Linked DNA regions of Homo sapiens. The protein of the gene in region 1 purifies or fractionates together with the protein of each later gene. This does not show direct contact. Each region holds a gene or a part of one and is shown on either strand. Other genes may lie near its edges.

Evidence for each region. The genes of interacting proteins can lie anywhere in the genome.
Region 2: the proteins of EEF1AKMT2 (region 1) and GSE1 purify together in Homo sapiens (affinity purification with mass spectrometry; one large-scale study listed by BioGRID and IntAct). This does not show direct contact.
Region 3: the proteins of EEF1AKMT2 (region 1) and GAK purify together in Homo sapiens (affinity purification with mass spectrometry; one large-scale study listed by BioGRID and IntAct). This does not show direct contact.
Region 4: the proteins of EEF1AKMT2 (region 1) and PAK3 purify together in Homo sapiens (affinity purification with mass spectrometry; one large-scale study listed by BioGRID and IntAct). This does not show direct contact.

Annotation. Positions count from the first base shown.
Region 1 is NC_000010.11:124,767,063-124,772,173, forward strand, and holds part of EEF1AKMT2 (EEF1A lysine methyltransferase 2), read right to left. Parts: intron 1-5,111.
Region 2 is NC_000016.10:85,651,322-85,654,821, reverse strand, and holds part of GSE1 (genetic suppressor element 1), read right to left. Parts: intron 545-3,500; coding exon 372-544; intron 29-371; coding exon 1-28.
Region 3 is NC_000004.12:922,317-925,816, forward strand, and holds part of GAK (cyclin-G-associated kinase), read right to left. Parts: intron 1-3,500. UniProt on the Homo sapiens protein: Associates with cyclin G and CDK5. Seems to act as an auxilin homolog that is involved in the uncoating of clathrin-coated vesicles by Hsc70 in non-neuronal cells. Expression oscillates slightly during the cell cycle, peaking at G1.
Region 4 is NC_000023.11:111,102,691-111,106,190, reverse strand, and holds part of PAK3 (serine/threonine-protein kinase PAK 3), read right to left. Parts: intron 3,036-3,500; exon of another isoform or gene 3,033-3,035; 5' UTR 2,885-3,032; intron 1-2,884. UniProt on the Homo sapiens protein: Serine/threonine protein kinase that plays a role in a variety of different signaling pathways including cytoskeleton regulation, cell migration, or cell cycle regulation.

The sequences.
Region 1 (5,111 bases):
AGGCAGGAGAATGGCGTGAACCCGGGAGGCAGAGCTTGCAGTGAGCCGAGATCACGCCATTGCACTCCAGCCTGGGAAACAAAGCTAGACTCCATCTTAAAAAAAAAAAAAAAAAAAAAAACAGTAAACAAAATAGAAAAGGTCCCTGTATGAAAACATACCTTATATTGGCCGGGCGCAGTGGCTCACGCCTGTAATCCCAACACTTAGGGAGGCCAAGGCAGACGGATCATGAGGTCAGGAGATCAAGACCATCCTGGCTAACACGGTGAAACCCTGTCTCTACTAAAAATACAAAAAATTAGCCGGGCGTGGTGGCATGTGCCTGTAGTCCCAGCTACTTGGGAGGCTGAGGCAGGAGAATTGCTTGAACTGGGAAGCAGAGGTTGCAGTGAGCAGAGATCGCACCACTGCACTACTGTCTAGGCGACAGGGCGAGACACTGCCTCAAAAAAAAAAAAAAAAGAAAAGAAAAGAAAAGAAAGAAAATATACCTTATATTCTACAAAGAGAAAGATAAAAGATAAATAAGCTAAATAAGTAACTTCAGATAAAGTGCCATGAAGAAAATAAAGCCAGAGAAATAAGACATTAAGTGACTTGGAAGAGAAACAGTTTGGAAAAGAGTAGAAACTTTTCTTGGCCAGGCATAGTGGCTCACACCTATAATCCCAACACTTTGGGAGGCCGAGACGGGTAGATCACCTGAGGTCAGGAGTTCGAGACCAGCCTGACCAACATGGACAAACCCCGCCTCTACTAAAAATACAAAAATTAGCTGGGCGTGGTGGCGCATGCCAGTAATCCCAGCTAATCGGGAGGCTGAGGCAGGAGAATCGTTTGAACCCAGGAAACGGAGGTTGCGGTGAGCCGAGATCACGCCATTGCACTCCAGCCTGGGCAACAAGAGTGAAACTCCATCTCAAAAAATAAAAACAAATAAATAAATAAAGTTTTCTCTAAGGTGTTATTTGAGCAAAGATCTGAATTATGAGAATGAACCAAACATGCTAAGATCTGGGGCAAGAATACTCTAGGCAGAGGGCAGCAAGTATACAGACTCAAAACAAGCTTGACATGTTTCAGGAACAGAAGAAAAGCCAATGTGACCGAGTATTGATGATAAACGAGGAAGAAGGTAAGAAATGAGGGACTTTGTAAGGCTGGATGAGGTTCAGAATCTATTTACAATGCAATGGGGAAGTCAGTTCAGGATTGTGAGCAAGGAAGCGACATGAACAGACATTTTTAAAAATCTGGCCAGGGCTGAACACAGTGGCTCATGCCCATAATCCCAGCACTCTGGGAGGCCAAGGTAGGTGGATCTCTTGAGGTCAGGAGTTTGAGACCAGCCTGACCAACATGTTGAAACCCGGTCTCCACTAAAAATACAAAAATTAGGCCGGGCGCAGTGACTCACACCTGTAATCTCAACACTTTGGGAGGCCGAGGCAGGCAGATCACCTTAGGTCGTGAGTTCAAGGCCAGCCTGAGCGACGTGCTGAAATCCCATCTCTACTAAAAAAATACGAAGAAAATTAGCTGGGTGTGGTGGTGCATGCCTGTAGTCCCAGCTACTTGGGAGGCTGAGGAATGAGAATTGCTTGAACTCAGGAGGCCGAGGTTGCAGTGAGCCAGGATGGTGCCACTGCACTCCAGCCTGGGCAACAGAAAAAGCCTCCGTCTCAAAAAATAACAAAGAAAAAATCACTCTGGCTGCCCTGTGGTAAAAGAACATCAGAGCAGCATGAGTGGAAATGGAGGGGCAAAATCAAAGGCTACTGTAGTAGTTTAAACAAGAAATAATGGTGGTTCGGACTTCACAGGGAGCAATTGAGATAACAAGAAATGATCACATTCTTGATATATTTTGAAGATAAAACTGGCCAGAAGCAGTGGCTCATACCTGTAATCCTAGCACTTTGGAAAGCAGAGGCAGGCAGATTGTTTGAGGCCAGGAATTCAAGACTAGCCTGGGCAACATGACAAAACCCCATCTCTACAAAAAAATTAGGTGTGGTGAAGCAGGCCTGTAGTCCCAGCTACTCTGGAGGCTTTGGTGGAAGAATCACTTGAGCCCAGGAGATTGAGGCTGCAATGAGCTGTAATAACACCACCGCACTCCAGCCTGGGCTACAGGGCAAGACACTGTCTCCAAAAAAAAAAAAAAAATATATATATATATATGTGTGTATAAATAAAACGAACAGAATTGGATATAGGACTTTAAGGAAAAAGAAGAATCAAGGATGACTCCTTGGGTTTTGTGTAAATGCAACAGGGTAAATGGGAGTGTTATTAGTAGAAACGGGAAAGACTGGGGAAATCAGGTCTGAGGAGGAAACCAAGAGTTTCATTTTGGACTAATTAAGTTGAGAGACTATTAGCTTTCCAAATGGAAGTTTTGAACAGGCAGATTTTACAAGCATCCCTCAGAGATATTGCAAGTTCTGTTCCAGACCAACACAACAAAGCAAACACCACAATGAAGCAAGTCACACAAAATTTTTGGTTTCCCAGTGCATATAGAAGTTATGTTTACACTGTATTACAGTCTATTAAGTGTGCAATAGCATTATGTCTTTTTAAAAAATGGGTGCCTTGCCAGGCATGGTGGCTCGCACCTGTAATCCCAGCACTTTGGGAGGCCAAGGTGGGTGGATCACCTGAGGTCAGGAGTTCAAGACCAGCCTGACCAACATAGTGAAACCCCATCGCTACTAAAAATACAAAAATTAGCCGGGCATGGTGGCACATGCCTATAATCCCAGCTACTCGGAGGCTGAGGCAGGAGAATCGCTTGAAACCGGGAGGCAGAGGTTGTGGTGAGCCGAGATCACACCATTGCATTCCAGCCAGGGCAACAAGAGCGAAACTCCATCTCAAAAAAAAAAAAAAAAAAAAAAAAATTGGGTGCCTTAAAAAATACTTTATTGTAGGCCAGGAGTGGTGGCTCATGCCTGTAATCCCAACACTTTGGGAGGCCAAGGTGGAGGGATCATCTGAGATCAAGAGTTTGATACCACCCTGGTCAACATGATGAAATCTCGTCTCTACTAAAAAAATACAAAAATGGCCGGGCGTGGTAGCTCACACCTGTTATCCCAGCACTTTGAGGGGCCGAGGCGGGTGGATCACAAGGTCAGGAGTTCAAGACCAGCCTGGCCAATATGGTGAAACCCCATCTCTACTAAAAATACAAAAATTAGCTGGGTGTGGTGGCGGGTGCCTGTAGTCCCAGCTACTCGGGAGGCTGAGGCAGGACAATCACTTGAACCCAGGAGGCGGAAGTTGCAAGTGAGCCAAGATCACACCACTGCACTTCAGCCTGGGTGACAGAGCAAGACTCCATCCCCCACAAAAAATACTTTATTGTTAAAAAAACACTAACAAGCCATCATCGAAATCATGAGTAAGTCATAATCTTTTCTCTGGCTGGAGGGCCTTGCCTCAATAAGGATGCCTGCTGACTGATCAAGGTATTGGTTGCTGAAGGCTGGGGTAGCTGTGAAAATTTCCTAAAATAAGACAGTAATAAAGTTTGCCGTATCGACTGATTCTTCCTTTTATGAAAAATTTCTCTGGAGTACATGATATTGTTTGATAGCATTTTACACACAGCAGAACATCCTTCGATATTGGAGGCAATGCTCTCAAACCTTGCTACTGCTTTATCAACTAAGTTTATGGAATATTCAAAATCCTTTTTCAACAATGTTCACAGTAGATTCCATCTCAAGAAACCACTTTCTCTGGTCGTCCACCATAAGAAGCAACTCCTTATCTGATCAAGTTTTATCAAGAGACTGTAGCAACTCAGTTACACCTTCTGGCTCCACTTCTAATTCTAGTTTGCTACTACCACTGTATTTGCAGTTAATTCCTCCATTGAAATCTTGAACCTCTCTCCAAGTCATCCATTAAGGTTGGAATCAGCTTCTTCCAAACTCCTGTTAATGTTGATATTCTGACCTCCCATGAATTATAAATGTTCTTCACGACAGGCAGAATGGTGAATCATTTCCAGAAGGTTTTCTTTTTTCTTTTTTTTTTTTGAGACAGAGTCTTGCTCTGTCGCCCAGGCTGGAGTGCAGCGGCTAGATCTCAGCTCACTGCAAGCTCCGCCTCCCAGGTTCACGCCATTCTCCTGCCTCAGCCTCCCAAGTAGCTGAGACTACAGGCACCTGCCACCACACCTGGCTAATTCTTTGTATTTTTAGTAGAGATGGGGTTTCACCATGTTAGCCAGGATGGTCTTGATCTCCTGACCTTGTGATCCGCCCACCTTGGCCTCCCAAGATGCTAGGATTACAGGCGTGAGCCACCGCGCCCAGCCCATTTCCAGAAGGTTTTCAATCTACTTTGCCCAGATGCATCAGACGAATCACTATCTATGACATCCATAGCCTTATGAAATGCATTTCTTAAATAACACATTTAAGACTGTAAAGTCGAAATTACTCCTTGATCCATCACGGGCTACAGAACAGATCCTGTGTTAACAGGCATAAAAACAAGATTAATCGGCTGGGCATGGTGGCTCACGCCTGTAATCCCAGCACTTTGGGAGGCCAAGGCAGGCGGATCACCAGGTCAGGAGATCCAGACCACCCTGGCTAACACGGTGAAACCCCATCTCTACTAAAAATACAAAAAATTAGCCAGGTGTGGTGGCAGGCACCTGTAGTCCCAGCTACTTGGGAGGCTGAGGCAGGAGAATGGCATGAACCTGGGAGGCAGAGCTTGCAGTGAGCTGAGATCGAGTCACTACACTCCAGCCTGGGTGATAGAACAAGACTCCGTCTCAAAAAAAAACAAGATTAATCTTCTTATATATCTCCATCAGAGCTCTTGGGTGAATTCATGCATTGTCAATGAACAGTAATACTTTGAGTCTTTTTCTTTTGGGGCAGTAGGTCTCAAAAATGGGCTTAAAATACTCAGTAAACCATACTGTAAACAGATGTGCCGTTATCCAGGCTTTGTTGTTCCATTTATAGAGCTCATGCAAAGAAGATCTAGCATAATTCTTACGGGCCCTCAGATTTTCGGAATGGGAAATGGGCATTGGCTTCAACTTAAAGTCATCAGCTGCATTAGCCCCCTCTAAC
Region 2 (3,500 bases), on another chromosome or scaffold:
CACCACGTGGTGCACGGGCCGCTGGAGGCTGCAGGCGGGGATAGTGGGCAAGGTGGGGACAGGTGAGTGCACACCTGCTCCTGCATGGGGGGACGGCTAAACTCCCTGCATCACCCCTGGCGCTCAGTCGGCACCCAGACTCCTGGCACCCCGAACGAGGACGGGGCTTAAGCAGCGGGGGGAGCGAGCTGCCACTGCCACCTCAGTGTGAAGGGGCACAGACAGGGCTGCAATCCCCAGGGCTCAGCGGCCGACAACCATCTAGCAGGCACAGCCTCATCTGTGCAGACCGCAGGCTGCCTGGGGACCCAGACCCTGAGCACTGTGTCCCCACCTGGCCACCTCACCGAAGTCCCCGCCGACCAACTTACTTGAGTGGCGGGAAGCGGGAATCCTGCACAACTGAGCTGGGGGAGAGGCCGAAGGGGTAGGGGGTGCTGAGCAGGTGCGAGGGGATGGCTGGTCCCCCTGCCTTCTCCTGAGGGAGCGGGGGCTCCACAATGAGGCGTTCCCGACCTCCACTGCTGCTCCTGGAGCCGGCATCCTGCGGGAGGAGAGCGTCCAGTCAGGGCAGGAGCCTGGTATAGGCCACTGACCACAGGACACAGCCAGGTCTCCTGACTCACGGGAAGGCGCTAGATTTAGTTCATGTTCTAGAAACATCCTTTCCCTAAGGCTTTCTACGCAAAACATGGTGCATGTGGTGTGGGAAGCAGAACCGTAAGAAAGGGGATGTGGCTGCGACAGGTCTGGGGTGAAGTGCGTCTCGGGATCCGTCTCCCTCCCTGGGCCTCCTCAGTCCAGCAAAAGAACTAGAACCCCCCAGAAACACAATGTGTGCAGGTGAAGGATGCAGGGTGGCAGGGGCTCCTGCCTCCACCCCTCCTGGTGTGGACATCCGAAGGTCACACCAGACACACACCCGGGGAAGCAGACACCGTTGGCACCCAGCACGCCGTGAAGCGAGTGCCACGATGTAGCCAAGACGTCAACTGCGCCGACAGCTGCCCACCTGGCCGCAGATGTCCTGGCCCTGGTGCCCACGTGGAGGGCAGGGGCAAAGGAAGCTGGCACTGCCCCTGGGCCGAAGGTGCTGGTCTGCCCCCAACCACCTCCTGGGGTGGCCCTGGCCCTGGAGCCCACCAGAACAGGCAGCAGCTGGGCCCTGACTGGCCAGCTGGGGTACCGGCCTTCACACACACGGTGGGGCAGGGAAGGCAACAGCTCGCCTGTCCCAGGCTCCTGGACACAGTGGACCTGGGTGTAGCTGGGAAGGTGGTCCAGAGGACTCAGATGAGGGGTCTTCTCCAGGCACAAAGCAGGAGGAGGCAGTGGCCCAAAGCCCACCTTCCGGGCTGAGGTCCCTGCCAAGTTCAAGGATAGGCCGTGCCACCCCTAGCCACGCAGAGGCTGCCCCGCACACACGCAGGGTCCAGCCCGGAGAAACCAGAGCATGAAAAGGCCTTGCTTGTTCCTGTTATTCGTGTGACTAAGTGGGAGGAGGAGGAGGAGGGGGTAGGAGGAGGAGGAGGGGGTAGGAGGAGGAGGAGGAGGAGGAGGGGGTAGGAGGAGGAGGAGGAGGAGGGGGGAGGAGGAGGAGGAGGGGGAGGGGGGAGGAGGGGGGAGGAGGGGGGCGGAGGGAGCCTCAGGGCGGCCCAGATGGGGGCTGTGCTCTGGACTCTGGATGGCTGCCAACCCAGGCGTCACTCTGTCACTGGGGCAGCCGTTCTCAGCCCCAGCATCTTCCCCATGTGGGGACAGCACTGCCCAGGCCTACCCTGACCTGGGGGTGTCTGAGAGCCATGGCCACGCTGGCCCCTCTGAGCTTCCCAGGGATGCAGAGCCACGGGAACCCGGCCCTTCCTCACGTTCCATCTGGCCATGTCAGGTAACGACTGCTGATCAGCGGGCAGTGCTCCTGAAGAGCACCAGCCCCGCTCTGCCTCCCTGAGCCACGAAATGCCAAACACCCAAAAAACAAGGAGGCCATGGCCGTCTCCCCACAAGATCAGCAGGAATGATGGCCCAGGGGCTCTGAGACCTGCCCCACCGTGGAGAAGCATCTGTCTCCCAGGGGCCGTGCCTGTGTCCCTGACCCGCCAGCCCCTCTTCCTGGGCCCATCCATCTTCATAGCGGCAGACGGTGACCCGGCAGCAGCACATGGCACCCGCGCAGAGGCAGTGCAGGCAGCCCGGGCCGGCGCCTCCCCTCTCTCCACCCTCCAGGAGACAGTCAGCGAGGATTAACTGGAGGAGCCGCCGCCGCCGCCGCCGCCTGGAATCTTCAATGAGAGGCAGCATCTGCTCCCTTCCCGCGGGCTGAGCCCCGGCCCCCCTTCTCTGTAGGGTCCTCCTGGGTTCACGACTTCTGACCTGCCTCTCCAGGGTGCTGGTCTCGAGGGTGGGAGGTACACATGGGCACTGACGCCCTGCGTGGGGCCGGGAACTTCCTATTGAGGAGCCAGCGCCTGGCCTTGGGGTCTCCAGCCGGTGTCAGCAACCGGGGTAGTGGGGGAGTGGCCGAGGGGCCAACCTGACCTTGGGAGACCTGGCCATCCTGTCGTGCCTCGTGCACACATCAATGGCATGTGCCCGTCACGGCACCTGCTCAGAGGACAGCAGAGTTGATGGCACGGCTATGAACGGGCATGCGGGGGACTCACAGGGCAGCAGAGTTGATGGCACAGCTGTGCACGGGCATGTGGGGGACGCACCAGCAGGGTGGGGGCCCGGACATGGCAGGTGTGTTGCCAGGCTGGCCTGCCTACCCCAGCCCCGTGAGGCTATTTCCAGGCTGGGCTTCTAGATCCTGCCTCACGCCCCTACCCTGCCTGGCATAGGGCCAAACATCTGAGGAACGGAGCACGAGGAAGGACACACCCTGTTCCTAGGGTCTGGGATGGACTTAACAAGACGGAGTGGCCCCTGGCCCCCCAGCATCCAAGTAGCACCCCAATGAACACCAGGCCTAAAGCTAGTGGGTCTCTGGATGCCCAGAACAGGGGCCTCGCCTGCTCAGGCACCCGGGGTACCTGGACTCCCCCTCCCAGGCTGGTGGGGAGGCCTCCAGGGCAGGAGGGAGACGACAGCCAGGGGCTTCAATCATCACCCAGCCTTGGGTGGCCAGAGTCAGAAGAGGGCTGGAGGACAGACCTCGACCTGAGGACAGCACCCAGGGTCAAACTACCAACAGCCCAGGCCTGCCGCCCTCCTCCGCATGCTGCCCGCGCCGTGGGCCGGGTCAAACGGCAAAGCACAGGGCCCCAGCCGCCCCGCCACAAGGAGGGGCCTGTCCCCAGCCCAGACACGGCCCTTGAACCCCTTCTCCCCTCAGCCGAGGACAAAGCCCTGCTCGCAGGCCAGATGGCACCTTCCTGGCCTGGCTGAGGACAAACAGGGAGTCCGGGGGGCTGGGGGGCAGCCAGCAGGCGGGGCAGGGGCCCGGCGAGCCAGACCCACATGTCTGTGGCTTCCGTCTGGCTGGCGCCCGGCCAACCCTG
Region 3 (3,500 bases), on another chromosome or scaffold:
CCAACCTGGGAAACATGGTGAAACCCCGTCTCTACTAAAAATACAAAAATCAGCGGCGCATGGTGGTGGGCGCCTGTAGTCCCAGCTACTCAGGAAACTGAGGCAAGAGAACTGCTTGAACCCAGGAGGCAGAGGTTGCAGTGAGCTGAGATTGCGCCACTGCACTCCAGTCTGGGTGACAGAGCGAGACTCCATCTCAAAAAAAAAAAAAAAAAAAAGGCAGCATCTGCAAACCAGCAAAAGAGGCCTCTCCTGGAATCAGCACTGACAGCATCTTGCTCTTGGCCTTCAAGCCTCCAGAACTGCGAGAGTGAATTTCTACTGCTCCCCACTCAGTCTGGAGTATTTTGTTATGGCAGCCTAACCAGGCTGATACGCTCCTACATTGCTGGTGGGAATGTATGGCCACTCAAGAAAACAATCTGGCAGTTTTCTAACAAACTAAACACATAATTACCACACATGAACCAGCAACTGCACTCTTAAACATTTATCCCAGAAATGAAAACGTATATTCACACAAAAACCTATACGCAAGTGTCACAGCAGCTTTATCTGTAGTAGCCAAAACAGGAAACAGCCCAGATGTCCTTCCACGGGTGGCTGGCTGGGCAAGCCGTGCACACTCACGCAGAGGAGTCTCACCACGGGAAACAAGCTACTGACACACAATTACCTGAAGAATTCTGCACTTCCCCTTACACTGCATCCTTCGAATGACAAAATCACAGACAGAGCAAAGACTAGAGGTTTCCAGAGGGTAAGGAAATGGCGTGGCTGAGAGGTGGCATGAGGGCTCCCTACGGGGATGGAGACTTCCACAGCCTCACCTGCACCAGGGTTAGCATCCCGACCGTCACCACTGGGGAAACCAGGCAAGGGTCTAAAATAGAAAAGATCTCCATCTTTTCTCACAGCCGCGTGGGAACCTACAATGAACTCAAAATAATACAGTTTATTTAAAAATAATAGTAACGTATAAGACATTAAAGAATGGCATGTCGGGTACCTCCAAGACCCTGTTATATACATTTTACAGCACACACTCTGCCAATTAAGGAACAGGCACAGGCCAGGCACAGTGGCTGACACCTGCAATCCCAGCACTTTGGGAGGCCGAGGTGGGAGAATCACTTGAGCCCAGGAGTTCTGAGAACAGCCTACAGGCAACATAACAAGACTCCATCTCTACCAGAAATAAATTAAAAATTAGCCAGGCGTGGTGGTGCGTGCCTGTGGTCCCAGCTACCTGGGAGGCTGAGGTGGGAGGATCGCTTGAGTCCGGGAGTTCAAGACTGTGGTGAGCTGTGATCATGCCACTGCACTCCAGCCTGGGCAACAAAGCAAGACCTCATCTCAAGGGCAGGGAGTGGAGGGGTGGGGAGTGGAGGCACAGAGACATCAAATGCTCAAGCCAGGTCAAATCTCAAGGCCCAGGTTCCCTGAGGCAGCCTGGCCTGGGACAGCAGAGTGACCACAGCTAAGGCTTGCCTTCTCTTTCTCACATAAATTATATAAATATATAAACATAAGACCTGTATCCAGAGTAAGCAGAAACTCCCTGCCCAATAAAAAATGGACAAAAAGGCCAGGCGCCGTGGCTCATGCCTGTAATCCCAGCACTTTGGGAGGCCAAGGCCGGCGGGTGACCTGAGGTCAGGAGTTTGAGACCAGCCTGACCAACATAGTGACACCCCATTTCTACTAAAAAATACAAAATTAGCTGGGCATGGTGGTGCATGCCTTTAATCCCAGCTAGTTGGGAGGCTGAGGCAGGAGAATTGTTTGAACCTGGGAGGTGGAGCTTGCCGTGAGCCAAGATGGAGCCACTGCACTCCAGCCTGGGCAAGACTCCCTCTCAAAAAAAAAAAAAAAAAAAAATTGCTGAACATCATCATCAGGGAAATTCCAATGAAATCACAATGAGATCGACACCACTGCACACTCACAAGAATGGATGTAATCAAAATGAGAGACCACAAGAAATGCTGGTGAGGAAGTGGAGAGCCAGGAACTCTCCACTGCAGCTGGTGGAAATGTAAAATGGTGCAGCTACCGTGGAAGGAGGTTTGGTTGTTTCATGTGAAGTTCAACCTAAATCCAACCTGTAAATCAGCAATCCTACTCCTTGGTATTTTTTACCCAAGACAAAGAAAAACACACGTCCACAAAAAGACTTGAAAAAAAATGTTCTCGGCACCTTTATTCATAACAGCGGATACGGTTTGGATCTTTATTCATAACAGCGGACACGGTTTGGATCTTTATTCATAACAGCACATACGGTTTGGATCTGCGTCCCCATGCAAATCTCATGTTCACTTGTGACCCTCAATGTTGGAGGAGGGGCCTGGTGGGAGGTGACCGGATTATGGGGCGGAGTTCCCCATGGCGTGGCTGCTCTCAGGATAGTGAGATCTGACTGGGCCATGGGTGTGGAGTTCCTCCCGGGGCTGCTCTCAGGATAGTGAGTGCTCTCCTGTGAGATCTGATTGGGTCGTGGGGGTGGAGTTCCCCCGGGGGGCTGCTCTCAGGATAGTGAGTGCTCTCCTGTGAGATCTGATTGGGTTGTGGTGGTGGAGTTCCCCCAGGGGCTGCTCTCAGGATAGTGAGTGCTCTCCTGTGAGATCTGATTGGGTCATGGGGGTGGAGTTCTGCCCGGGGGCTGCTCTCAGGAGGAGGTTGCCAGGATCTGAGATCACACCCCTGTACTACAGCCTGGGCAACACAACAAGACTCTATCTCAAAAAAATAAGAATAAAAAAATAACAGGCACAGGATATGAATGTGCAATGCCAGAAGGGGAGGCTGAGCAGCAAATAAGCATTACCAAACTCGCTACTCAGAAAGGCACAAATCAAAGCTTGACACTTTTTAAACCCATCAAAATGTCCAAATAAAACAAACCCCCAGGGGACACTCTGAGGACTTGGGACACTAGAGTCTGGTGCCCCCGAGCAGCCTGCAGGCCCCATGAGCAGAGCTGGGCAACCTTCCCCCACACAGCCCACCAGCGTCCATGCAAAGGGCTGAGGACACCTCTCACCAGGATGCGTGTAGGATGCACGGAGCACGCTGGGGACGGGACAGAGTGCCGGGGGACAGTGAGGTCAGTACAGGACCACTACAGGCAGATCTGAGTATCTTTTTTAATCAACTCGGCCTCTTTTAAGAAACAGACACTTTTCTAACGTAAAATACCACATACCAACATTTTCAATACACACATAATTCACAACACTACAGAATGAATCTGTGTCCCCTCCAAAATTCCTGTGTGAAATCCTAATACCCAAGGTGATGGTGTTAGGAGGTGGGGCCTCCTTGGGGGTGACTAGGCCATGAAGGTGGAGCCCTCAGGACTGGGATTACTGCCCCAGAGAGCACTCCCTCACCCCTTCTGCCCTGTGAGGACACAGCGAGAAGGTGCTGGACCTCACCAGACACCAGATCTGCCGGCGCCTTGCGCCTGGACTTCCAGCCTGCAGAGCCGTGAGGAA
Region 4 (3,500 bases), on another chromosome or scaffold:
TGGGAATGTATAAGAATGTGAGTGTGTGGTAAGTGTGATTGGGCCAGTGTGAAAATGTGTGATGTACGAGTGGGGGATGGTGTGTGAGGGGGTACACATGTGCATGTACACGAATGTGGAGGAGTGCTTGTCTGTGGGAATAAGGGCGTGTATAATTTTGAGTGTACAGTCGTGAATGTGAAAGTGAGTGAATATGTGAGTGTTAAGTACATGTGCAGTATGTATGTTTATGTGAATTTGTATGAGTACTGAATGTGAATAAGCCTATATATGTGTCAGTCAATGTGACTATACCTGTGTGTGTAAGTGATTGTGCTTGAGTTTGAGAGGGTAGAGTGACGGTTTTCAGTGAAAATGGCTGAGTTTATAAAAATATGTGTGTATGGTTGTATTTCAGTGTATGTGCCTGCAAGTTTGGTATAGAGTGTGATGATGTCTCAGTGTGAAGAAAGTGAGTGTGTGAGTGTGAATGTGTGGCAAAATGTGTGTTTCTATGTATGAATGTGATTATGTGTGAATGTATCAGGAGTAGGGAGGTTGTTTTAGCTCTGTGTATGTGAATGCAAAAGTGTGTAATTCTAAGTGTAAAAGTGCAAGTGGGTGAGATGGTGCTTATGATGTGAGAAAATATAAACGTGGATATATGAGCATGTATGCACGTTTGTGTCCCTGTGATAAGTTTGTGACTGTGAGGAAGAAACAGTGATGACATCAATGCAAGTACACTGGAGTGTATGAAATTGAGTGTATGAATGGCTGTGAGTATAAGAAACAGTTGGAGTGTGTGCAGGGGGAATGTCAATGTATTATTTGTGTATAGAGTATGTATGACTATACAGGAATTTGGGCAGGCAAAGGTGATTGTATCCTCTGTGTGAATGTAAGTGTGAAAGTGTATGATTGTGTGTGTGTGTGAGAATATGATATTAATAGCACAAAGGTGTGAGTGTCTGTGAACATGAGGGTGGGGTGTATGGTAAGTGTGTTGTGTGCATCAATATGAAAATGTGAATACGTGAATGTGAATTTGTGGCAGTGTGAATGTACCTAAATGTAGCATGTATGTAAATATGATTGTGTGTGAGGGTGAGGGCATAAGAGTGATCATCATTTTGAATGACTCCAGTATGAAAAGTGAGTGAGCCCAGGGGATGATGTGACTGTGTGAATGTACAAGAGTACAAGAATGTGCTTGTGAGAGTATGTATGTGTATGTGCATGAACTAAAGATACCAAAATAACTTTGGATGCTGGGAAACTCTCTCCAGGAAGTCTCTTTCTTCCCAAAGCCACAGCATGTCTTCTGTTACAGGCAAGTTACTTAGCTTCTCTCAGCCTCTATCTCCTCCTTGGTAAAACAGTAATGATGATAATACCTAACTTCAGCTAGTATCACTTGTATAATCAGAAACAGCAATAACTATTAGAAAAAAAAATACCTACCTTGCAAGATTATCATAGGAGAAAATGGTATCATGCCAGTAAAGAGCCTAGCACAGAGCTGGCAACAGTAGACAATAAATACAAGTTATTATTGCATCTGTCACAGAACACCAAAGAGCGATTCAGGGGCTTCTCATTTTAGTCAGTCCTAGTTACCTTCTGTCCGTCAAGGCCTAAAGAGGATCCCCTACCAGAACATCGCTAGAAAGTTGAATGCATCAGTATCAACAAGGCTGTAATTTCATACCTTCAATTCCATGGCTGAAACTCTGGAGCTTCCCTTTCATAAGAAGGCATCACAGAAACACCTGCTGCTGAGCTGCAGTTTTACCTTGTCTGTAGGCGCATTGTATGCTCAGTGTGAAAGGGAACTACATTGCTTATTCCTTGCTTGTTTTTTGTTTAGTTTTTCTGTTTTTTTTTTTTAATTTTGTTGGTTGTTTTTTGATTTGGGTAATAGGAGAGATGCCTAAGCAACTGATAGACAGAAGACCAGACAGAGGGACAGCAAGCTACAAGCAGGTAGCTGGACTGCAGGGAATAGCAACAGAGGCCAGATGGAGAAGCTGACAGAAGAAGTTATAATGCCTGCCTGAAAGGCAGACAAAAAAACAAATAGATGATCGGAGAGACAGGCCATGAAACCTGAAAGAAATGCAGAGGAAGAGAGAGAGGCCCAACTTGCAAAGCTGCTGGGGAACTTTTGAGCCCTTTTAAGGGAGACTAGAGATCTGTAAGATCTAGTCCCTGCCCTTGAAGAGCTTACAATCTAGTTTTCCTGGTAAGATGAATACTCCAGAAACCATGCAAGACTTATTTAAGGCAGTAGGGCAGCAAGTGCTACCCTGCACGCTACAGACTCAAGTGCTGTTGGAGACCTGGTGGAGGAAGTGCATCTTGGTTGGGTGGGAAAGCAGAGGGAAGGTTTGGGAAGGTTTAAGCTAAGTCTGACAGGCCCAGAAGCAGGGATGGAAGGGGTGGGGGTACACTTCAAACAGGAAGGTAAAATTAAGGTTATGGGGCAGTAGAAATCATAGGAACTGAATGGCAAATTTGCAGCATGTGGCTGAAAAGCCACCCAGGCACCAGGAAAGGAGGAGAAAAGAAAATGACAGCTTGATGGGAAGCATGTCTGTGTTATACTGAAGCTCTTAGATGGTGCTTGACATCTGCAACGGACTTGGCAACGATTGTTATGTTGTTTCTCCTCCTCACCCCAAAATGTAGGTCAAGGCTGTCATTCCCATATTAGAGATGGGAGGGAGGCAAGAGACTAAAGGCAGCTGTACTGGGCAAAATTCCCCAGAACATAGGGGTCATGCCCTGAGGCCTAGCTCACGAGGTCTAGGCAGAGTCTTTGATATTGGGAGATCTGGTGGAAAAGCAGCATTTGCCTGGATTTGGAGATCCCTAACTCCCTGCCCTGGACTCCATTACTCACCTCACACCGCCACCGCTGCAGGACTTCAGCACAGGTGGGCACTGCCCATGAGAAGGGTCCGGGCTGGCTTCAGCTCCTACAGACTCAGTGCTGGGCACACCAGCTGCCACAAGATGCAAGGACTCAGCTGCTCTTTCTTGGGGGAAACCTGCTGAGAGAAGCATTGTAGGGGAGAGGGAACCTCTTTCCCCACCTGCTACTGCTCCCTCATCCAACTCCCACCAAACATCTCTCTCTCTCTCTCTCTCTCACACACACACACATACTCTCTCTCTCATACACACACACACACACACTCTCTCTCTCTCTTTCTCAATCTCTCTGGTGAATTTCAGAATATCTCTTAAGAAAGCTAGAAAATCAGAGGGCTAAGAAGTGTAAAAAGGCATTGTTACATAGGATTCCAGAAAGGGCACGGAAGTGGGAGTCAGGAGTTGGGAGTTACAAGCTGAGAATTGCTGTTAGTCACCTCATCATTCTGGGCCTGCTTAGTATCAAGTGAAAAGGCCTGCCTTAGTTGACTTGGGTAAGTGTTGGAAGAACTAAATCAAATAGGACAGATGTGAAATATTTACATAGTCTGCATAATTATGGAGCAATGTGTATAATCACAGGA